2 separate regions of the Homo sapiens genome follow, and region 2 is linked to region 1. The links come from fine-mapping of genetic effects on gene expression. A gene starts in region 1. The other region holds a variant in brackets. All regions are shown on one strand. Distances are between the middles of the regions.

Evidence for each region. PIP is the estimated chance that this variant, and not a neighbour inherited with it, causes the effect. A credible set is the group of variants that fine-mapping cannot tell apart.
Region 2: its variant is the best candidate, but not a certain one, in a credible set for the expression of COA5 in anterior cingulate cortex (GTEx, PIP 0.51).

Annotation. Positions count from the first base shown.
Region 1 is chr2:98,600,790-98,616,710 of GRCh38, reverse strand. COA5 (cytochrome c oxidase assembly factor 5) reads left to right here and starts at 8,199. Exons shown (of 3, transcript NM_001008215.3): 1 at 8,199-8,404; 2 at 12,520-12,603; 3 at 15,918-15,921. The coding sequence starts at 8,306. UNC50 (unc-50 inner nuclear membrane RNA binding protein) reads right to left here and starts at 8,122. Exons shown (of 6, transcript NM_014044.7): 1 at 7,985-8,122; 2 at 6,672-6,955; 3 at 5,816-5,936; 4 at 365-504; 5 at 178-279. The coding sequence starts at 6,951. RefSeq lists a silencer at 7,895-7,994 and enhancers at 8,058-9,047, 15,058-15,227.
Region 2 is chr2:98,530,000-98,537,999 of GRCh38, reverse strand. INPP4A (inositol polyphosphate-4-phosphatase type I A) reads right to left here. Exons shown (of 25, transcript NM_001134225.2): 5 at 4,505-4,623; 6 at 2,155-2,271; 7 at 1,792-1,871; 8 at 26-137. Among named protein-coding and RNA genes, the nearest start is that of COA5, 75 kb to the left of the region's middle. The variant T/C (reference allele first, on the strand shown) is at 3,029.

The DNA.
Region 1 (15,921 bases):
CATTTGAAAACAGAAACAAACCTGTGTAATTGTCATGAAGATTAAATGAGATAATGCACATAAAATACTTAGGATAGTGCCTGTAAGTGTTCCATAAAAGCAGCTGTTTGTACTACTGTTACAACTTTCCCCCTCTTGCTATGTTCTCAACCAAAAACATTTAAAAAAATTACTTACCACTGTATCCCAGGAAAGTTACATAGATATAATAGCCAACTGCAACCAACCATAAGGTATTTCCAACTAAATATCCAATAAATGTGTCTGTCAGGATAACATCTGCCAGAAGAGACGCAGACCATGAGTCCCTTTACCAATGCATGCAATGAAGACTTGGATAATACTCTAATTAACTGCTACTTACGGTTGATGAAAAAAAGCTGGATAAAATGCAAAATGACCAGGAGTGGATAAAAAGCATTGAGATGCACATCAAAAGCATAGCCCCATTCCACATCATAGTCTCTGCTCTGTCGTTTCACTAAATACTTGTTAGAGATGAACCTAAGAGCAAAATTAAAATTTCTTTCATAATAAAATGAATTCTGTAAATGTTTACTGACGACTTTCTATGCGGCAGACATTCTAAATTCTGGAGATATACCAGTAAACAAAACAGACAAAAATCCCTGCCTTCCATCTAGGAAGGAAGGCTGACAATGATACACCTATGTCAGATGGTATTATGGAAAGAGAGAAAGCAGCAGAGAAATGTGGAGAATACAAACTTGAGATGCAATTGTACATATGAGGGTCATAAAGTAACATTTGGGTAAAGACCCAAGGATAGTGATGGTGCCTGGCAGGCCTGAGGAATGGTGAAAAGACCAGTGTCTGAAAGAAAAGGAGCAAGAAATGAAGCCAGAAAAGAAACAGGGTTGGGCCCAACATCAAGTCACACAGGCTCCATGTCTTACGAAGCCTGTGGCCGTTTTACAATCTTTGGCTTTTATTCCTGGTGACGTGAGAAGCCACTGTGGAGTTCTGAGAAAAGTATTTGACTTAAATGCCTTGACAGAGCCTCCCTGGTGGCGGATCTGAGAACAGACTCCAGAGACAAGACTGGCAGCAGAGACCAGTTAGAAGGCTACTGCAAGGAAGAGATGAGCAGAGGGGCTGGTGGCAGTGGAGGTGCTAAGATGTGGCACACACGATACTCTGAAGGTAGAGCTCCTGACATTATTGGATTGGAGTATGAGAAAAAAATACTCAAGGATGACTGAGAGATTTCTGCCTTGAACAAATGGAAGATGGAGCTGCCTTTAATTGAGGTGGGGCTGGCTGTGGGAAGAGTGGTTTTGAGGTGGGAAGGAGTGTGCGGAAGTTTGAATTTGGACCTGTTATGTTGAAGATGCCAACTAGTATGGAGTAAGAAGTTGTATACAATGTCTAGAGTTTAGAAGACAAGTCCAAACTGGAAATATAAACTCATCAGTGTGTAGATGATATTAATATTTAAAGCCACGGGCCTGAATGATGTCACCAAAAAAATGAATGTGGATAATGAACAGGCCCAAGGCCCAAGACCTGGGTCAACCCCCTATTAAAAGGAGGATGAAATAGTAAGAAGCAGTTAGGAAGAGTGACGCATCCAGCCATAAGAACAATTATTCAAGTGTATGTCACTGTTCTACAACATGGCCTACTAGTTTTTCAGTTCAATGATGAATAAAAAGTAAAATATCCAAGTAACAGAAAAGTAAGATCTTCAAAGAACAAAACTTGTATTATAAACATATATTGGAAATTCAATGTATTTTTTAATGTATTATTTCATTTCATCTCAAGGGTACAATTAAGAATACGCTATTCCGTCACTGGGGATAAAAATGGAAAATAAACAGAGGTACAATACTAATGTTAACAGTCCCTGCATTTCGTTATCTGAAAATGCCAAAACAATACTGAACAAACTAGAGCTTACCAAGACAGTTTCCTTTTTAGCCAAGAATGTGTGCCATTCAAATTTTATGGAATCAGTATGTAGCTCGCTCCCCAAGAGCGCCCTTTCTGTAGACGTTCTCTGCTGCCCCTATTCTCCCGCTTATCCCAAATGGGCGCTTTTCAAGCTTCTGGCCTCAGTGAGAGTCTTTCCTCTGAAAGACAGATGTGCCTTCCGAGAGCACTCCAAGGCACTGTGGTTTTCACCTCCCAGCTCCATATTAACGCCAGTCAGAGGCTCATCATGGCCCAGACTCTTGCCTCTAGGTCTAGAGTCATCAACCTCAGTGTCTACTGACCTTCTTTTCACTCTTCAGGAAGCTCCCTGAACTCAACAGGCCAGCAAGGGCTGCTTCATCTGCATCTGCTGCTTCCTCAGTCATCTAAGCCAAAATCTTACAGGTCATCCCAAAGGAGCCTCCCACCCACTCCCTCTTCCTGATCCCCCCTCATACCTTGTTATCTCAGGAAGCTCTCGAATCCATCTCTCCTCTCTATTCCTATCACCACCATACTATCTGGGCCTCCTCTACTCCTACGCAGACCTCTGCAAGTGTATCCAGCCTTGCCCACTCACTACTCCAACTTTTGCCTCCTCCACTGCCATGGAAAAGATAGTGTGAGTTTGACATTATTTCCTTACTTTAAAGCCTCAAAGCTCCCCACCTCCTTTTGCCCCCAACCCACACATGCAGTCTATGAGATAAAGTCCAATTTTTTTCCTGAATGGCATGAAGGCCAATTTCTCTAGTCACATCTCTTCCCCAGTGACTCGGTGTCACCCTATGCTCCCAGACCTAGTGTGCTGTTCACACCTCTATGCCATTGCACTTGCAATTCCCAGCACCAGGAGTCAACTATTCCCCATCTCCACAAACCACCACCTTATGCTGGCTTCTGTAGCTCCTCTGTGATGGTCATCATTACATGTAGTCATTTCTCTTTCTAGTTCCTCACACAACATAGGTTCTCAAAAATACACTGAATCCCTTTCTATTTAATTCAAACTATGATACAGACTCACATGAAATGTGCTAAACTCCAGGCTGATTTGGTCCCCTTCTGTGCCTGATATTGTTTGGCTGTGTCCCCAAAATCTCATCTTGAACAGCAATCCCCAGAATCCCCACGTGTCAAGGGTGGGGCCAGATGGACGTAATTTCCCCCATGCTGTTCTCGTGATAGTCAGTGAGTCTCACAAGATCTGATGGTTTTATAAGCATTTGGCATTTCCCCCACTTGTACTCACTCCATCCCGCCACCCTGTGAGGAAGGTGCCTGCTTCTCCTTTGCCTTCTGCCATGATTATAAGTTTCCTGAGGCCTACCTAGCAATGCAGAACTGTGAGTCAATTAAACCTTTTTCCTTTATAAATTACCCAGTCTCAGATATTTCTTTATAGCAGCATTGAGAACAGACTAAGACAGTGGCCTCCAGAATTACTGCATTCAGGGCAGAATGCTTGTTATGAATGAAACTATTCCTTTGAAAGTCTTATTTATTGAAATTTTAAAACACACCATTTGTTTTTCATGAATTTCTTGGTAATGAATACGTGACTTACATTAGTATTAATTCTAGGCCAGATTTTAGAATTTTATATTAACAGTGGACAGCATTTATTGGCTAACTAGCACATACAAAAGCTCTGCTGTACTAGTCAGAAGTTACAAAGGAAAATACAGGCATATGTCATTTTACCACACTGCACTGTACTGCGCTTCACAGAAACTGTAGTTTTTAAATTTTTACGTATTGAAGGTTTGTGGCAACTGTGTCCAGCAAGTCTGCCTGTGCCATTTTTCCAGCAGCATATGCCCACTTCATGTCTCTGTGTCAGCATTTTTAAGCAATAAAGCATTTTAAATTAGTCTGTACATTGTTTTTTAGAGCCATAGTGCTATTGTACACTTAAAAGACTACAGTACAGTGTAAATATGATTTTAATATGCACTGGGAACCAACACATCTGTGTGACTCAGTTTATTGTGATATTTGCTTTACTGCAGTATCTGGAATGGAACTAGCATATCTGAACTATGCCTGTAAAAGGGTGGTATTGGCTGGGCGCGGTGGCTCACGCCTGTAATCCCAGCACTTTGGGAGGCTGAGGCGGGAGGATCACCTGAGGTCAGGAGTTTGAGACCAGCCTGGCCAAATGGCAAAACCCTGTCTCTACTAAAAGTATGAAAATTAGCCAAGTGTGGTGGTGTGTGCCTGTAATCCCAGCTACTCAGAAGGCTGAGGCAGGAGATTCGCTTGAACCCGGGAGGCGGAGGTTGCAGTGAGCTGAGATCACACCATTGCACTCCAGCCTGGGTGACAGAGTGGGACTTCGTCTCAAAGAAAAAAAAAAAAAGGCTGGTATCAGAAGTTATAGTTGCAGAGTTTTGCTTAAAATATTAGTAACTACCAAATATTGAACACTTAACTGTGTCAGGTAATTTTCATAACATAATTATCTCAAAAATTGGACAGAATAGGTAATTAACTAGATTTTGTAAAAGAAGAGACTGGGACTAAGAGTTTCACAGATAACTAAGTTGGCATTTGAACCCAGGTCTCTCTGCAACTAAAATGTTCTCCACAATGACCACCATGTCTACCCAACCACTGGTCCTCTACTGAGATCGCTAGCCACATCCCCTGCCCTTCATCCAGCATGCCAACCACACAGGAGGACTTTACCAAACACCAGATTTATCCTCAGTACACTGCTGTTGCTAAATCAACCAAAGTCAGACTGAGAACCCTTCTGATAAAGCCCGTGTGTGTGTGTGGCGGTGGGGGGGCGGGGGGGGCGGAGGGTGTGTGTGTATGAGAGAAAGAGAGAGAATTTTATTCTCAGTAGGAAGGCATGAGAAGTTTAAAAAAAAAATCCTTCTTTTTCAAGTATACTTCATTTAATGCAAAGATTCAAAGTAAGACTCCACAAAATAACCCTTTAGATCTAAATGGATTTAAACACAATGAATATCAAGAAGTGGTCTCTATTGACAAATGCAGAAAACCATGCTATCATCCAGACAACTTAAGCAGAACTGGCTAAATCTGTAATATTTTTGCAAAACCAGGCATTTTGTTAGTATGCAGAAAATAAATCTCGGGACCCCAAAATCACTAAGCCAAAGGGAAAAGTCAAGCTGGTAACTGTGTCAGGCAAACTTGCCTCCTATTTTATTCCTAAGATAGCTTATCTTTACAGGTGTGGGACAGAAAGTCCTCCTTCTACTCACCTGAGACAAGTGTTTATCTGATTGCTTCCTCTGCCCCATTGTTTATGTAAAAATGCAGACTCACTGAGCCAGATTAAGGCATAAATGACTATTCCTGTACCTGCCTCTCACAAGTAAATTGTGTATTCAGTGAAAGGCAGATCAAAGACTCAAAAGAATGCAACCATTTGTCTCTTATCTAACTGTAACCTGCCTTTCCCCACTTTCTGGATTAAAACAATGTACATTTTACACATATTGACTGATGTCTCAAGTCTCCCTAAAATGTATAAGAGCAAGCTGTGCCCCGACCACCTTGGGCACATGTCATCAGGACCTCCTAAGGCTGTGTCACAGGCATGTCCTTAACTTTGGCAAACTAAACTTTCTAAATTGAGACCGATCTCAGATATTTTGGGTTCAAAACATAATTATTTCAATTATTTGCTACATTTGACAATATTATAAACCAGCCTTTATAGTATTTTCTGATATAGGTGGCAACACAGGAGGGAAAATTGTAATAATCTTGGCAGTCAAAATTGATCATTTAGTAACTCTACCTGGGTTTCAATTTCCATCTGCTGCTATTGTACCTCTGAAGCAAACAAATGGAGATGCTACAGCAGTATCTGAAAAACCAAAGTTATGGTACTTACCACATTAAAGTTGCTATCAGAAGACCAACGCCTACACAATCTATGAGTACAACCCAAAGGAGAAGCTTTATTGTCTCAAAGAATCCCATGTCCAGCACAAAGCCAAATCCTATAGTGGACACTGAAAGAAAGATTCACAAGATTCATTTAGGGACTCTGCTAGGTTCTGGAAATACAGGACACATCCCTTGCCCTCCAGATGCCCAGGCTAGTGGGAGAGACAGGTCTTTAAACAAAACTCCCAAGATGTGTGAACACTACCTTGGGACACAGCGTGGCCACTGAGAGAGTTGAAGTTTCCTGAGGTGGGCCCTTGCCAGGCTGATTCACCACGGTGGCCTCAGTATTTAGAACGCCAGTGTAGAGAAGGCACTAACATAGTTTAAGTCCAGTTAAGGTGCAAAACACCCTATAAACTTCAATATCTTACCCACTTCAACACCCTACAGGTAAATGAGACCCTTGCATTATGGAATTGGAGAACTTCAGTTTCTCAGGTTCCCATCAATACCTTTACAATTCTCACTGTGGATTTGCCTGTGAAATGCAATTTCCAGTTTCATATTCCTATTCACAGTCAGCTGACATTTGGGTACCGATTCAAGTACTTAAAAAGATATGGAGTGAATCTTGTCCCCTGCTTTTCAATGTCCTAGGGTAACAGTTTACTCTGGCATCTGCTTGGGACCTGTAGAACCAAGACTACAACTTTCTTTCCTGTGAGATTTTTTGAGGCTTCAGTAAAAAGGAGAAATAGTTTCCAATATTTCCAGATTCTGACCCACAACACATTTATAACAAAAAATCTAATCAGAAACACTCAGCGTTCAATTCTATCTCAGATAAACACACTTACCACAGAGCCAGATACTTAACAGGACCAAGAAAGCAGGGTCATCTCTGGCCCACTGGTCCTTCGTCTGTTTTCGATAATGAAAATTTCTGTAAACTCTCTGTGGGGATGTGAACAGGTAGAGCATCTGCCAGGCAGCAAATTCAAAGTCCATTTGCCGAAAGCGGAAAAGCCTTCTCAGATATTTGTAGCGTTTCGCTCCGGCTGTGTGTCTTGCCGCATCCCTGGAATTCAAGACTCCGTTCCCCTGCACTAAGGAATTCACTGAAGTACTCGGTAACATCTTCCTAGATGGAAGAAAAACATTTCTTTTACACGTATTCTGAAGAAACATTTGGCTACCGACACTCCTCTTCTGAGTTATTTGGCAGGGAGGTCACTTTCCATGTTCTTCCCAACCCTAGAGAAAGGCCAGGAGTCAAAAGCAAATGCAGTTAGTTCTGAGGCGGGTCTTGGGGCTTGGGAACCGCAGACTGCAACCTCAGGCAAGGGCAACAGCCCACCCTTCTGAATCACCTAATAACACTTATCCAGGGGCAGCTACCATTACAGAGACAGGGATGATGTGACTGCCCCATGACTCCGAGGATAGTGATAGAGCCAAGATTGGAAATCTGACTCGAAATTCCGTGCTCTTAACCACCAAGCTTTTAAGAAAATGCCTAAGAAAGCAGTTTCAGCCGGTTAGAACAGTGTTACTGAAGAGGTCAAATAAATGGCCTATTCACACAGATCCATCAGCGCACTGCCAGCAAGCTTCTCGGTCACTAGAATGAGATTAAAAAACCAAGAAAAACTCCGATCCCTAGTGTTTTACATCCGGAATAGTTCAGCAGAGGGAGCGGTAGCGTCGGAGTCCAATCCAACCGGTCCGAGCTCCGGGGAACGCCGGCCACTGCCCGGCTGCCCGTCTCCCCTCCACTTCGCAGGCCCCCCAGACGCCGGCAGGGTCTGGCCGAGCCCAGCTGCTCCCTCCCTGCCCGGGGCCGCGGGTACGGCTGCCAGATTTAGCAAATAAAAACACAGAATACCCAGCTCCATTTGGATTTCAGACAGGCCACGAATAAGGTTTTAGTATGCCTACATCCCACGCAACATTTCGGACATGCTTATACTAAATGCTCTTTCTTTATCTACGATGCAAATGTAACTGGGCGTCCTTTCATTTTAGCCGCAACTCTATCGCCGGCCGAGGGGCCGGACGCCGACATGGTCACTGCCAGGCCGCAGCGACGTCAGGCCGCAAGCTGTCGGGATTAAATGGCCCCCGGCGCGAGCCCGGGCCGCGGGAGGGCAGAGTGGTCCTCAGGCCTCACCTGGAGTCCTGCTACAGCCTCGACCCACGTCCGAACCAGCCCACCACCTCCTCCCAGCAGCCGACCCCAGCCGCCACCGGGCGGGCTTCCCTTCCCTCAACGGAGCCGGCCCTTGGGGCGCGCCGCGTCACGGGAACCGACTTCCGCCGCGGACGCGCCACCTCTCGGCCCCCGTAGTCCTCGGCCCTACCGCCGCGGCCCGCCGGAAGTTGTTGCCGCTGGCTTCCGGTCCCCTGAGACTGGGGCCTCGCTCGCTCCCGACCCGGTTGCAAGTGTTGCGGTGGGAGAAAGTCGCGTCCGCATCGGAGGGGAAGCGCCGTCATGCCTAAGTATTATGAGGACAAGCCGCAGGGCGGCGCGTGCGCGGGCCTGAAGGAGGACCTGGGCGCGTGTCTGCTGCAGTCGGACTGTGTGGTCCAGGTAGCGCGGCCGGGCGCTCCCGGTGGTGACGACCCCTGTCCCAGGCAGGCCTGGCTCGGCGGAGGGCAGCGGGTCGCCCGCGGCGGCGGTTGGAGTTAACCATCCCGGGCGTAGGTCACAGCTCGGGCTCACTGAACGTGCGCAGATCCACTGAGCTGTCGGAGCCCCAGTTCCCTGTGGGGTTAAATCGGAGATAACGATAAACGCACCCTGTCGGGTTTTTGTAAAGGTTAACCCATTTCAGTTCACGAAGCCTTTATTGAATGCTAGCACTCTACTAGGCTTTGGAGACATAAAGGAGAATAAGCCAGGTTTCTTGCCTGCCTAGAAATGATAATCTGTAGAATTAATGATTCCAGAGAGTTGCGTAAACCTGGTACACTGCCCTGGCCAGTAGTGTCTCCTGCCTGTTCAGTTGTGACAATGTGTGCTCAGTTTGACTTGTGTTGATGTGAATTTGTTTCTGAGTTACAGTTCTCTGCATTCTTGGATGTTAAGTTGTAAAAATAAGGCAACTCCATATTTTCACGATTTCGTATCTTGCTTCCCCTACACTCTTCCTTCACTCCCCGGCTACAGACACAGGTCTCCTCAGCACCCTCTTGGAATGCACTGAAACATGTAGTGAGGTTCACAGTGGACCTGAGTTCTGGATTAGAGCTCAAGTAAAGCACAAGTGCCTTTTCCAATTGCAGAGGCCCGACGAGAGGGCATTCAATTGTGTGCAATTGTCTTTGCATTGGGGGATGTAGTTTCAGAAAGTTGCTGTTATTTCAGAGAAAAGATTACCCCCAAATGGACATCCACTGTAAGACTGTACCAGTGTTTCTACCGAGTCACAATTTGTTTGGTTCACTGATTTTAGCAGTCAGCCATTCTCGCCTCCCAATGTCTAGTAAAACTTGAGTTATTATAAATTTAAGAGATTATCTCGCCCAACTTCCTTATATAAATGAGGAAACTGAAGTACCGTTGTTTTCAGGCTCCCCTGTCCAGGGCTGTGTCCCTTCTGCCCCTTACTCACTGGTGCTGCCGTTCAGCCAGCTCCTGGTAAATGCCTCTTAAGTGGCAGGCATGGTACCTGACACTGGTGATAACGAAGATGAATCAGTAACAGTCACTACCCATGTAAGCTTGGTGTCATGGGAGAAATAGACATCTAAGGGTCTAAATTCCTGCCATAAGACTGTAAGCATTTATTAAACATGTGTTTAATGACTAGATCTTGAGGAGAAAAATGCGTTAGCCCAAGGGAGAGCGTCTGATTTTGCTTCAGAATTTGGAATCTTCTGAGATGACATTTGAGCTGAGTCTTAAAAGTTGAGTAGTAGTTTATCAAGTAAAGGAGTGGGAACTGTTGTGGTTGTGGGGAAAATCTGAAAGAACAGCAAGTGCAGAGGCAGGGAGATGTGGGAGGGCGCAGAGGAGCTAGTGTCCTGCCATAGGGGAATGCGACAGAAGGCCTGAGGGGAAGGTTGCAGCCAGGTGTGAAGGCCTGTATGTGTGTCAGAGTGAGGAGACTGGATTTTATCCAGACGTTCAGCATCGGAAGGCCATGTTGATGAGTAGTCAAGGGAAGAAAGTACACTGAGTAGGACTGAGGAAAGAAACTCCAAGTGGAGGACAATAGCAGCAGCACAGAGAATTCCAAGCTGGCTTTCTGCAGCGGTTGATACAGCAAACATGTACGGAGCGCCAGGCTCCAGTTCAGGGAACAAATACTGATGAATGGAACATGGTCTCTCCAGTATAGAAAGCGGAGCTGTTTGGCTAGAATGCTGTAGGCAGAGATTATGGTTGGGACAGCTGGTACAGACTTTGCTTTTCCCGCCATTGAATATGTGGCCTTACCAGTGCTCAGTTTGGTCAGCCAGAAAACGTGATGCTTATAAGCAGTTCTTTAGATGGAAGTTCGTATACAGTTTGTGTTAAATTCATTCTGAATGCTGACTTCAGCTGGATTGTAAAAGGGCAATAGTGAGGAGGTTTGCAGGTCCAGAACAATCTCCTACAATCTGTTGGCAGCTACTGCCCACTGCTCCTCACTGGGGACTCTGAAAGACCAAGGAAAGCTCTGCTGAGGTCTGTGCTTGCTCTGTGTGGCAACCTTAATTATGATGGAAATTTTTGATTTCTTAAGTTCTTGAATAAAAAGGTTAATCTGATCCTATGGCAGGTTGGTGCTGTAGTCTCTTCTTGCCAGTCTTTAACCCACCTGAAACCTGCAGCACCTCGCTCTAGGGAGGAATTCAACATAAACATGTATTTAGTTCTAGGTGCTGCTTTGGGAGACTGTCAAGGAGTTAGAGGGCCTCAGAGAAACTCAGGGTAATGGTAAGGATGTAAATTCCAGTGGGGCTGGAGGAAAGCAGGGAAAAAGCAGATTCAAAAGGCATCTCTTGAAGAGACTTCTTAGGATTTAATGACTCCTGGATGATCAGGACAATGAAACTCTGCCAGAGGAACTTCACTCATCATAGGGTATCTTCGTCTCCACTAACAGCTTCCAGATCCACTGACTCTTCATCAGAATCACCTAGAAGTGGTGTGGCTTTTTAAAAGTACAGATTCCACTGCTGCCCTCACCCTACCCCCAATAAGTTAAAAGTTTCTTTCCTAGGTTGGTTTTGGGCACAGCCATGTTTGAGAGCACTGACTGATCTTGACCTCAGAAGGCAAAAAAGCTTGGGAGTGTATTAGTTAGAATATAGATTCAAGTGCATGTTACAGAGACCCAGAATAATAGTGGCTTAAACGAGATAGAGAACTTTCTCTTTTGTCCTTGTGCCTATAATCAGGGCCTAGTCATTTCCCTCAGTCTTCCATGAACGCAGACACTGTTGATCTTGTGACTCTGTGCTGTGAAAATAGGAAAATATAGCAAGTAGGGTGTTACTCTCATATTCATGGTCCAAGACTGGTTTGCTTCCACATCATCAGGCCCGGCAACCTTATGGAGTGAAGTGAGGAAAGGGGCAAGCCTCTTTAAGGACCAACCCAGAAGTTCTACACCTGTTTCCCACACATTCCAGTGGCTAGAACTTAGTCACAGGACCACAGCTAGATGCAAGGGCGTCTAGGAGATCTCACCCAGCCATATGCTGGATAAAAAGGAAGAGCAGACAGCTAGCAGTCTGTTATTTGGGGTGGAGTGGATAACGAATGACTGTCTCTTAGCTTTAGTGTATCTAGATGGATCTTTACCCCAGGCAGTTGACAATATAGGTTGAAAGCTTTTGAAAAAGGTAGCATCTTAGATACAGTTTGAAGAGGCATCAGCTTATAAACTATAGTTATAACCTTTTATATGGTTAGTCTTCTTTTGTCTGCCTCCACGTCGTTCATGTGGGCAACACATCCCACCAGCAGAATTGCAGAGTTTGGAGAGGAAGGAAACCTGCTACTCTTATCCACTTTTGAGAGTCACTGAGGTAGATGACATTTGATATCTAGGACCCAGGCAGACATACAGACTGGAAGGTGGCCAAGACTCCTGGGGAACAGGAATACCACAGACATAGTACCCTGTAGCTTTTCATAGGAAAAACTGGCAGAGCGTGCCTGGCACTTGCAACATAAAGGTTCTGGGGAGTGGCTGCAGTGATGCGGCTGTAGAGTCAAAATCTGCTTGAGGGAAAATCCCTGATTATGCAGAGCAGATGAGCTTTGGGTTATATTTTTTCTGGTGCATGAATGGGCCACATGTTTCTATTTAAGTAGTATTCCAGCCTGCCTTGTTAATATCTTTGTGAAGTGTTTCGTGCCAACACTAAAAATATTCTGATTTTAGGGTACCCAGTTCACACATTTCACCCATAAGGAAATGAAGATAACCCTTTCTAGATTTTTATATAAACAGTTTAAGGAAAAGTATCCAATAGAAACCAGTGTTTTCAAGAATTCAACAGTGTCCTTAAAGTTCCCAAGTTACTTTACAATTTTTTTTTCATTCTTTAGGCACCAATAGCCCAAATGAATTAAGAACTATTTCCTACATAACTTTCTATTTTCCTCCTTTAACACTTTTAAAAAGGACTATTTTCAGAAGGACAATTATTTTGTACTTTGTGAGAAAATTTCCAAGGTGTTTATATTGTTTTATGTGTCTGTCATAGGAAGGAAAATCACCTCGGCAGTGTTTGAAGGAAGGATACTGCAACTCTTTGAAGTACGCATTTTTTGAGTGTAAAAGATCAGTGGTAAGTGGTTAAAGATTTTTAAAAGCCTATGCTAAAAATTAGCTATAGGGAGGTTAAATATATGAATGACTTAATAGTTATAGGTAAGTTGCAGTGATATGGTTTGGAAAAAATTACATAGATAATATTTCTTCCTCCAGTGAGTTAACGTTAGGTAGCGTTCATAAAAACCCACAGCTCATTGTTATGTTCTTCTGTCACCGTGCTAACTACAGCTGCTGAACTTCATGCATTTCTGAAAGTGTGAGAATGAAGTCTCGGCAGGTATATACGGGTAAAAGTTGATGTTGGCCACTCGAGTTCAGATCAGTTGGCAATTGTATACAAACATATAATGTGGAGCTCCAAGGTGTATACATTTGTGCCTTATGTGACTAAGAGAAAATGTCAGTATCTGTGTTTGAATTTTGGAGGGATGGATTGTAGAAATAGGGCCTAAAAAGAGATTACAAATCTCTGGGGTTCATTCTAACATTCTTTGATTTGGAAGATGTATGGAGATCTTTGGAATGGAAACTGAGACCCTTTTCTTGGAGAAATGTATAAAACCAAAAATATGAGCATCCCATTAAAGGAAGAAAGCACTTGGACTTGAGGATGTTTTTTTTTTGTTTTTTGTTTTTTGTTTGAGACGGAGTCTCACTTTGTCACCAGGCTGGAGTGCAGTGGCGCAATCTCAGATCACTGCAACCTCTGCCTCCTGGGTTCAAGAGATTCTCCTGCCTCAGCCTCCTGAGTAGCTGGGATTACAGGCGCCTGCCACTGTGCCCAGCTAATTTTTGTATTTTTTTAGTAGAGATGGGATTTCACCATGTTGGCCAGGCTGGTCTTGAACTCCTGACCTCAGGTGATCTGCCTGCCTCGGCTTCCCAAAGTGCTGGGATTACAGGAGTGAGCCACCACACCTGGCCTTGAGCATGCTTTTGTTTGCTTAGGAACTACACTGCAAATCCCTTCCTTTTTGTTAACAAAAGAAATGGAGGGTACTGATACTTACGACCTGCAAGTGGTTGTAAACAAAGAACTTGGAGCATGTTTGCCAGCTAATCAGATCCAGGGAGGGTGTAAAGTTAGATTAAATTTGGCCCTGCTCTGTTTACTTTCTTAAGTGACATCTTTTCCTGTCATTCAGTGTGAATAGAGGAGGATTTTCTTGCCTTCTCTCACATAGATTTGTTACCCATGTAAAATGCAAACCTTTAACTTTGTCAAGAATTTCAAAGCGTGTGCAGTAAACCCTCTGAAATTCTCTACCTAAAGCTCAGTCTTCGATCTCCAAAGAACGAAGTCAGATTTTTTTTTATTTTTACAATTTATCTACTTTCAGCAGAAATTTTTAACAATCTTACATAAAAAGTAAAATGATCTTACCATTTCTAAATATCAGTACAAGGCAGAGTTTCACATATACTTTGACACTGAGAAGAGCACCTTAGGGACCCTTTTTTTTTTTTTTTTTGAGATGGAGTCTCGCTCTGTTGCCCGGGCTGGAGTGCAGTAGTGTGATCTTGGCTCGCTGCAACCTCTGCGTCCTGGGTTCAAGTGATTCTCGTGCTTCAGCCTCCCGAGTAGCTGGGACTACAGGCAGCTGCCACCATGCCCAGCTAAGTTTTATATTTTTAGTAGAGATGGGGTTTCGCCATGTTGGCCAGGCTGGTCTCAAACTCCTGATCCACCCACCTCTCCCTCCCAGAGTGCTGGGATTACAGGCATGAGCCATTAACACCCGACCAGCTTAGGGACCTTTTTATAATCTTTCTCCAAGACCATGTTTTACTGTTAGTCCTCCAAAATGAGTAGAGTCATATCGCTGTTAATGCAACTTGTTATACATGCTTGGCAAAAAACCCAGAAATATAAACATTTAAATTGTGTGGGTAATTTTGTATGCTATTAAAGTGAGTGTGCATCTTATTGAAGGTGAGATGGGAAGTTTGAATCTGCTGTTCTCTCATAGTATGAGCAGTTCACCATCCTGATTCCTGTGTTTTAAAATTTTTTTTTAAAAGTATGGCTTTAGCTACTTTACCTAGTGCTCAGTGAATAAATGGCTGTCTGTCCACACTTTGTTGGACTAACTGGCAGGGTCTGTCTCTAAAATAATTCCTTCCTATAGAATAGTGGTCTGCAACATTTTTGGCACCAGGGACCAATTCCATGGAAGAAGACAATCTTTCCACGGACGGGGAAGGGGGCAGGGGATGGTTTTGGGATGAAACTGTTCCACTTCAGGTCATCAGGCATTAGATTCTCATAAGGAACGTACCACCTAGATCCCTTGAATGTGCAGTTCACAGTAGGGTTCATGCTCCTGAGACTCTAATGCTGCTGATCTGAATGTAATGCCCCTGATCTGACAGGAGGTGGAGCTCAGGCCCTAACACTCCCTCTCCTGCTGCTGACCACCTGTGTGGCCTGCTTCCTGCCAGGCCATGGACTGGTACAGGTCTATGGCCTGGAGGTTAGGGACCCCCAATATAGAATTTTTGGGGAGTGACATTGACTATGCAAGTTTGCCTTACAAACTGACTTGAGAACCCTCTGCTCTACCTACTACCCTTAAGAAATGACTGCACTGTGAGGCTTCAGTCAAAGAACGTGCTGCCAGTTTGTGAGGTGGTAATTCACCTGAAGGATTTTTAATCCCAAAGTAATGTGTTACTTAACATTTTTCAGGGCTCATCAGTTGCAATTTAAAGATTTCAAATATATTTGAATATTAACCTAAACCTAGAAAGTTAAGTTTTTTAGAAGAAGAATGTATATTGAGTATAGTCCAAATAAACAGTTAAATGTAATTTGGATTCTTGATTGCCCTTAAGCGGAACTTCTATTTTTAATGCCATCTTTCTTATTTATTTATTTATTTATTTATTTATTTATTGCCCAGGCTGGAGTGCAGTGGTGCGATCTTGGCTCACTGCAACCTCCACCTCCCAGGTTCGAGCAATTCTCCCGCCTCAGCCTCCTGAGTAGCTGGGATTACAGATGCATGCCACCACACCCAGCTAATTTTTGTGTTTTTTAGTAGAGATGGGGTTTCACCACGTTGGCCAGGCTGCTCTCAAACTCTTGACCTTGTGATCCGCCCACCTCATCATCCCAAAGTGCTGGGATTACAGGCATGAGCCACTGTGCCCTGCCAATGCCATCTTTGTTACTGTGGTTTTTCTTGGTAGTTCTGATGTCATCACCTTTTTGATTTTGCTAATAACTGGTTTATTTCTCTCATGCGGTGATACCCTTACCAAAGTAAGGGGTGTTTAATTAATTACATTGTACCAAATTTGATTTAATTGTATATTTATTTTCAGTTGG
Region 2 (8,000 bases), 75 kb after region 1:
AGAGGAGGAAAGTGGTGTAACTCACCCTCCCATTGACAGTGTCCACAGACCGGGTCACAGGGGGCCGTTGGTCTGACTTCTCCTCCATCTGCCAGCCAATCACGGTGATGTTACCTACACGGTCACTCTCTGCAGACCTGTGATGCACAACATGCTTTAATGAGTGGTGCTGCAACTGTGCTTCTTTTCTGCTGAAATACAAAGCCCTAGCCGTACTGGGTCATCAGGGTCCTGGGGGCAGCAGGGCCGAGCTGACTGACCAGTCAGTCAGCATTCACTGTGCACACAGGGCTCCTCTCAGGCGAGACAGACAAGGAAACCATGGGGCACAGTGGAGGGCTGTGTCTGAACGGACACGCACCACAGGGAAGTGTGGACGTGCTGGTGAAGTCAGAGGGGGCCTCCCTGAGGAGGAGCCAATGCTGTTCCTGAGCTGCTGCCAGTGCCTGTGCTCACCCCTGCCCAGAGGGTGAGGGGGACACGTGTCAGAGTGAGGACTACAGAACACCTTGTTCTGGCCCTGGGCCCTTTTCTGTTCCTTCCCACCCCACCTTGAGGCTTATATTAGCCCAAGGCCTAAGCCTGGACTCCAAGTAATGGAATCCAGCCAGGGCTTCCTGAAGCCCTTGAATCCTGATATGACACAGCTGATGCTACCCCAGCCTCAGTCAGCTTTACCCTGACATCCCGAAGGGTGGCTGATGGTGGCCTGGGCTCATCTGATTCATCCAGGGAACCTGGGGACACCCTGGAACTTCAGGCTTTCTATTTACAAGGTCTCACTTAATCAGGTTCTAAATTTTTGTCTGGTCCCATCTACTGACCATTTCCTTTGTGATTTCCTTGCCCTGTCCTCGTGCCTGTGAAGTCCTTTCCTGCTCTATCTGTTCAATCATCAGCCGCCTTTAGCTCCTTTAAAAAGAATGATGTCTATTTTGTACATTTAACTCTAACCCAACTAGAGTTAACTCTGACACATGACGTAACTAAATATTTTTCTCAAAGCCCTTTCCCTTACATGATCCCTCTCATTTTACCAAAGATGGTTCCTTTTTCCTGAATCAAGTTCTCTAAACAAACTAAGGGCTGCTGCAGGGCTCTGATCCTGTCCACTGATTAGACAGCCAATGCCTGCAATACTGTCTTTACTTATAGTAGCTTCAGAATGTCTCAATACTGCAGGGACTTAATTGTTTGTCAAATTTTCCTTGCTACTCTAGATTACTTTCCCAGATCACAGTTCTCCAATTTTTACCTTTTTCTGAAAAAAGACCACCATGTCAGGGTTTTGGTGGGAAGTGCCCCTAAAATGATTTGGAAGGACTGACATCCTGATGTCTTTCATCTTTCCATCCTGGGAGACAGTGGGCGTTTCCCTTTCATTCACTCATTCCTTCCATAAATATTTATTGAGCACCAGACACATTCTAGGTGTCTGGGAAATAGCAGTGAAGCAAAGCAGACAAAACTCCCTGCTCTATGGGAGATTATATTCCACTGGGGAGGGGCTAAATAATGGAGAAACACACTTAGTATTACTAGATATGTATCTAGGCCTTCCTTTAGGGCTTGGTACAGCTGTGCTCATATCTCCTATGGATGCTAAAAGTTTCCATTCTCTGATAGGCTAAGTAATTTGTTTCGCCTCAATAGACAACACAGTGTCCCCACGCTGACTGGCTTCTGGGAAGGGAAGGGTGCTCTCTCAGTATAAGAAGTGGGTCCTTTCCCCATCTGTCCCTGGACCTCATGATTCCAGATCCTTTCAAGGGAATAAAACTGAATACCAACCTTAGTGTTAAATGCAACCTATGATGCCTGTCCTGGAGCAGATCTTTGACAATGAACGTTCCAGAGCCCAGTAAATACATCTGAGGAAGAGAAGGAAGAGAGGCAGCATTGGTGCGCTTGCTTTGCTTCTGATGCAATTACCATGGCCCCAGAGAGTCCAGCTGACTGCTTCCCACAACACCTCTTACCCTTATGTCAGAAGCCCAATGGGAAAGCTTAACAATTCGCAAAGACAAATGCATTTAGACATGAGTTAACTTGTGAGCCAGTAGTGAAGTCAATCTGTGTTCATCTCTCATTCAAACGATTATATAATTTTTTCAAAGGGAAGAAAATCCCACGAACTACAACACATTACTTAACTGTTCCCTGAGATCTATCTTTGACATCATACACGGAGAGTTTGACTTGTGTCATCTGATTGATAAGAGAGTCTTGAAAGAAGGCAATACTGCTTAGAAATATAGGATTGTTGGTTCCCTAGAACAGAAAAGGAAATAATCAGAACACAGGGTTGGATTTTTAAAATGTAATTGCTTTTGAAATACACCAACATTTTCAGAATGAGAAACTAACATTCTCACTGCCTTGAATCAACACAAATGCTAAAGGCGGCTTAAATAAATACATAAAACAAACAAACAAAAAAACTCTGCTTTTTAAAAGAGAAAAAAGAAGTCTGACATAGACCATTACAGATCCACATACAATAAATCAGCCCATTACACAAGCTGTGCCTGAGGACTCATTTCATGGGTTTCACACTCAACAGGAGGAATTTTTAAAAACTGAAACAAGTTGGATGTCCACATGCATTCTTAGTTTTATAACTTAAAGTGTAATGTGTATGTAAACCTACTACTTTGAGTTATTCCTTTAAGAGGTACAAATAAGCAGATGAAAGAGAGAAAATGAATGGCTTAAGTGGTTTATTATGTATTTCTAGAAGCCTGTGTTTGGAATAATTAAAGCCTGACTTTTCAAAAGCTATCCTTTTTTTAGGATCAGCTACTAGTTTTTTGATCATAGGTGACTATTTCCTGGCAGCCTGGCCATGTCCTCCAAAGCCCCGTAATACCATACTCTCTCAGGCACCAGGTAATTATCACAGCCACCATTCCCTGGGCCTCTGGCTCCTTTTTCTCTCTGGAGATCCAGATCCAGGTGGTCAAGCTGACTGGACAGCTCCACCTGGGTGGGCTGCTGGGGCCTCAACCAACTCATCTCTCCCTCCACC[T/C]GCCCTTGGCTAAGGCCACCTCTGACTCCCTTTCCAAGCAGGCTAAAAGCCCGGGCATTCACTTTGGTGCCTTCTTCTCTGTTGTTCTCAACCATCCAGTGATCATGAACTCCCCTTGCAAGGTCCACCTTCAAAGTCTCTGTCATACGCTCCTTTCTTTCCACTCCCTCCAACTCTCACTCCCCCAAATGCCTGTCCTATACAAGTTAGGACATCTGGTCAGGTGACTCCCCTGCACAGAAGCCTACACTGGCTCACTACCATCTGCTGATAAACTCCACGGCCTTCAAGGCTTTCTTTCCTTGCTCTCCTACTTGTGCCTTTCACACACTGACCAGGATACAGTTAGACCCCAAACCTGCATGATCCTTCCCTGTGGTCACACATTTGCATAGCCACAACAGAACTTTGGCGTGCTCTTCATGTGGAGTCCCCCGACTGGCTACCTGGGCATCACTTGGGAGCTTGTAAGAAATGCAGTCTTGGGCCCTACCCCAGACATACTGAAGTAGAATTTCATGAAGCCCCACCCTAGGAAGCCTGCTCTGACTCTCACAGCCAGATAGGATCCCAGCCTCCTGGTGCTCTCCTTACCTTCCTACTCCAATACTTCCCATACTCTGCTGTGCACACGGGTAGCCATATTCATTTCTGCCTCCCCACCCACCAGCTGGTCAATTCCTCAGGGCAGGGACTGTGCCCTGGTGGGCTCTGTATCATCCACAGTGCCTGGCACTATGCTAGATGTGTAGGTAGCACTCGACAACTGCTTAGAAAGCAGAATTGTTGACGTGAACTTGGAAATAAGTTTCTAAGAGACTGAAAGGGTGGGCTAGCTTCCAAAATGCACAACTGGTGAAGAAGAAGAAATGCAGTTTAAGTTTGATAATTCTTCACTTTACAAATAAAACTCTGCAGAATCTCATGCCACCAACTCCTACACTTAGTGTTATGTAATGTGCTTGATGATCTAAAAGGATCATCCATAAATGTTTATCCACAAATGTTTATCATGTAACTTAGTGGGAAAAGTTAACATGTGACACAAAACTCAAAAGGCTGTAAAAACAAAAACCAACAAAAATAGGGGTATGTCTGGACAAGAGGGTGGTAAATAGTTAATACTCTTCTAAGCTTTGATTAATGAGCACCACTCTTGCAAAGTAGCAGCCAATTGGAGGTGACAAGAAGGAATTAGGTCTTACCTCTTACAAGGCAATGAAGCTTACAGGATCATTGTTCAAAAACAAGCTGCCAACAGTTAATCAATAACTGTAAAGGATATGGCAATATAAATGCCACCCAGATGAGTAAATGTGATGAAAAATATCAATGTACTGAAAACCCATGGGAAAATAGCAACAACTCACGTAAATACAGCTTCAGCTACAGATGCACAAGTAACTGAACATCAGGACAAGAGACACCACTAGAGCATGTCCCACAGCCCCTCAGAGAGAGACCACCAGCACCCACCTCAATGATCTCCGTCTGTGCATGCTTCGTCCAGAATGCCTGAGGAGGGGTGGTGACACTCACCGCAACAAAACTATTTGGCTTTCGATCTAGCGATGGAGTATGCAGCTCACTGCAAGCTACAGAATCAACACGGGAAAGAAATGAATCCTTTAAAACCAGACTCTGATTAGTTTTCTGTTCCAAACACATTCAAAGAAAGCACAAAGAGTAAATGACATTCAAAGAGATGAGACGATCACATCGTCAGTTGTCACAGGGAAGTGATTTTTTAAATTTGAAACAATCTCTTTTCACGCCCCCTCCCCGCCACCCTCCAAGACAGCAATGTCATAACTTCAGTGAAAGGCTGCGCTGACGGGGGCTTCCCATGTCCATGGAGTGGAACACAAAGCCAGAAATCTCATATAGGTCCAACCCTTCAAGTCCGACCTCGGTAACTATTCCAACTCTAACCAATTGAGTGAAGGAGCCACAGAGTCTACGAAATCTAAGACAGAGCTACCCATGCTTGCATCCTGTGACTGCTGTGGCTGACTCTGAGCATATGGTGCTCCACGTGTCTTGGCAGGTGGATGGATGGATGCTGGAAGAAAATTAGAATTCTATGGCAAAGTAAACAAAGCTCTTTTTTTTTTCTTAAGTGAGCCATTGTTCATTTACAGTCAATGATAAACCACATATATGACAATGGTCTCACAGATTATAATGGAGCTGAAAAATTCCTATTGCCTAGGGATGTCATAGCCATCCTAACGTCCCAGAACAAACACATTACCTTTTCTATGTTTAGACACACAAATACTTACCATTGTGTTACAATTGCCTATAATATTTAGTACAGTAGCTGTCCAGGTTGGTAGCCTAGGAATAACAGGCTATACATGTAGCCTAGGTGCCTAGGAAGCTGTGCCATCTGGGATCCTGTTAGTACACTCTATCATGTTCACACAAGGATGAAATCACCTAATGACACATTTGACAGAACGTAGCCCCACCATTAAATGACACACGACTATACTTAATGCCACCAAACTGTATACTTAAAAATGGTTAAAATAATAAATTTTATGTACATTTTATCGCAATTTTAAAATAAAATAGAAAAAAGTATTAACTCCAATTTAAAAATATGTTATTGTGTCCACAACAGGTGAGACAAATGCACAGGAAATTCAGAGAGAGGAGGAGTGATGGGATGAAGGAAGACACTAACAAAAATGAAAGAAAGAACAGGGAGAAAAAAGGAGAGATTAAAAGACTGAAAAATACAAAGAGGGAAGGAGGAGATATGAATTTGGAAGGGTGGGGGAGAGCAATACCTTGGCATGTTTTGAGGAGAGTTTACCTGGGAAGATATCTTTGTCATGTTCATTCAGAGTAAGTTACTGGCTATCTCCATCCTTTGAAAGGACCTGTGGTGATCTAACTAACCACTGTTCACAGCTCGATCTGCTCTTTTGGGTTCTAATTACACTTTTTCTGACATTAAGATTGCCATATCAGGTCTCTCCTTTGTTAGCATACACATTTGTGTGTGTGTTTTTCTATAGTTGCTATTCATGCAGCTATAACCCAGATGTTTACCCCAAATCTTATGTCTTTGAATTTTCAATGCTTTCTCTATTGGTGAACGTCCATCTGGAATCATCAGCCTTCTACTTAGGAACATCTCTTAGCACTGTTTATACTGTAAGTGTGGTGCTGACATTCTTTCAGCTTTTAAGGTTTGAAAATGTCTTTATTCCACCTTACTTCTTGAAGGAAATGTTCTCTAAGTAGTCATTTTCTCTAAGCCCTTTAAATATATTGTGCCTAGGCCTCTGTTTTTTCTGTTATGAAGTCAGCGGTCGGTCTAGTTGTTGCTACTTTAAGTGTTGTGTTTTCTGGTAGCTTTTATAATTTTCCCACTGAGTATGGCTTTCAGTAGTTTTATTATGATGTGCCTAGGTACATTTGTTTTTATTTGTTCTGCGAATTGTTGTATTACTTTGGGAGAAATGCTCAACTATAAATATTGCTTCTGACCCTTTTCTGTGTTCCTTCTTAAAGATACAAAATAAATGTAACATTAGACCTCTCACTATGCTGTTTTTACTCTCCTCTGATTTTTTTTTCCATTATTTTTATTGCTCTGGCTTCATTTTGTAAATTTGCTTCTTGAAATTTTTCTTTTAATTCTAGAATATCTATTTGGTTCTTTTCATGGTTTCTAGTTCTCTGAAAATGTTCAATAATGTCCTTATTCTTCTTTACCTAGTGTTATGACTGAATGTTTGTGTCCCCCTAAAGTTTCTTTAAGTAGGTCTGTCCTCTGACACAAACCCCAAAATTTATGTGTTGAAATCTTATATCCCAATGTGATGGTATTAGGGGTGGGGCCTTTCAGAGGTGATTAAGTCATGAGGGTAGAGTCTTCATGAATGGGATTAGTGCCTTTAAAAGAAGAGACACAAGAGCTTGCTTCCTCTGCTCTGCTCTCTGCCATGTGAGAACACAACAAGACGACGTCCATCTGCAAACCAGGAAGCTGGCCCCCATCAGACAACAGATATCCTAGCATCTTTATCTTGCACTTCTCAGGTTCCAGAACTGTGAGCAATAAATTTCTATTTTTTAAGTCACCCAGTCTACAATATTCTGCTATAGCAGCCCCTATTAACTAAGACATATAGTCAATAACAGTTATTTTAGTGTCTGTCTCTTAACTCTAATATATACAGCCCCTTTGGATCTATTTCTATGTTTATTGTTTCTGTTCATATTTCTTATCTCCTCATGTTTCTGAGAATTCATGATTTTATGCTGAACACTATATTTTAAGAATTGCTTGTAGAAATTATTTGAGGTCTAGGATGGTGCTTTCTCCAGACAAGATTTGTAACTACTTCTGCAAGGTTCCAAGGAGCACTAGCACTCTAAAATATTTTCATTTACTTTCAGAAACTTAATGAACCTGTAGTCCCTATGAACACCTGCTTCTGGTTCCTTTACTCTAGAGGTTTAGATTTAGCCTTTTGGATTCTAGATCAAAGTGAGAGGGGTTTCAACAAGTATCCTTCCCCTAACGGACCCTAGAAAGCAATCCCTGCCACTTCTCACTGAGACACTGTCTAAAGCACTAAGTGTCTTTAGACACTTAGTGTCTAATCCATCTAATCCTTTCTCTTGGCCTTTCTCTTGGGAACCACTGTAAGCCCTCAAGGGAATAAGTGAGCCTCTGCTCTCAGATTCTTTATTGTCCTATCAGTTCTCTGGTAGCATGGACCAGGTAGTTCAGATTTTTTTTTTTTTTTCACTTTTTCTAGTTGTCCTTATGGTAGATTTGATGTTTGTTATTTATCTAGAAAAAGATTTTCTTTCTCCTTAGAATTTGTTAGTCTCATAAGGAGATGCCTGGCAGCTGGAATATTCTTGAGTCTTAAGTCCATTCTTCCCTCTGGAAAGAATTCTTCTGTTGCTTCTGGCTTGCTGCTACTCCTCTTTCCAGCTCTCT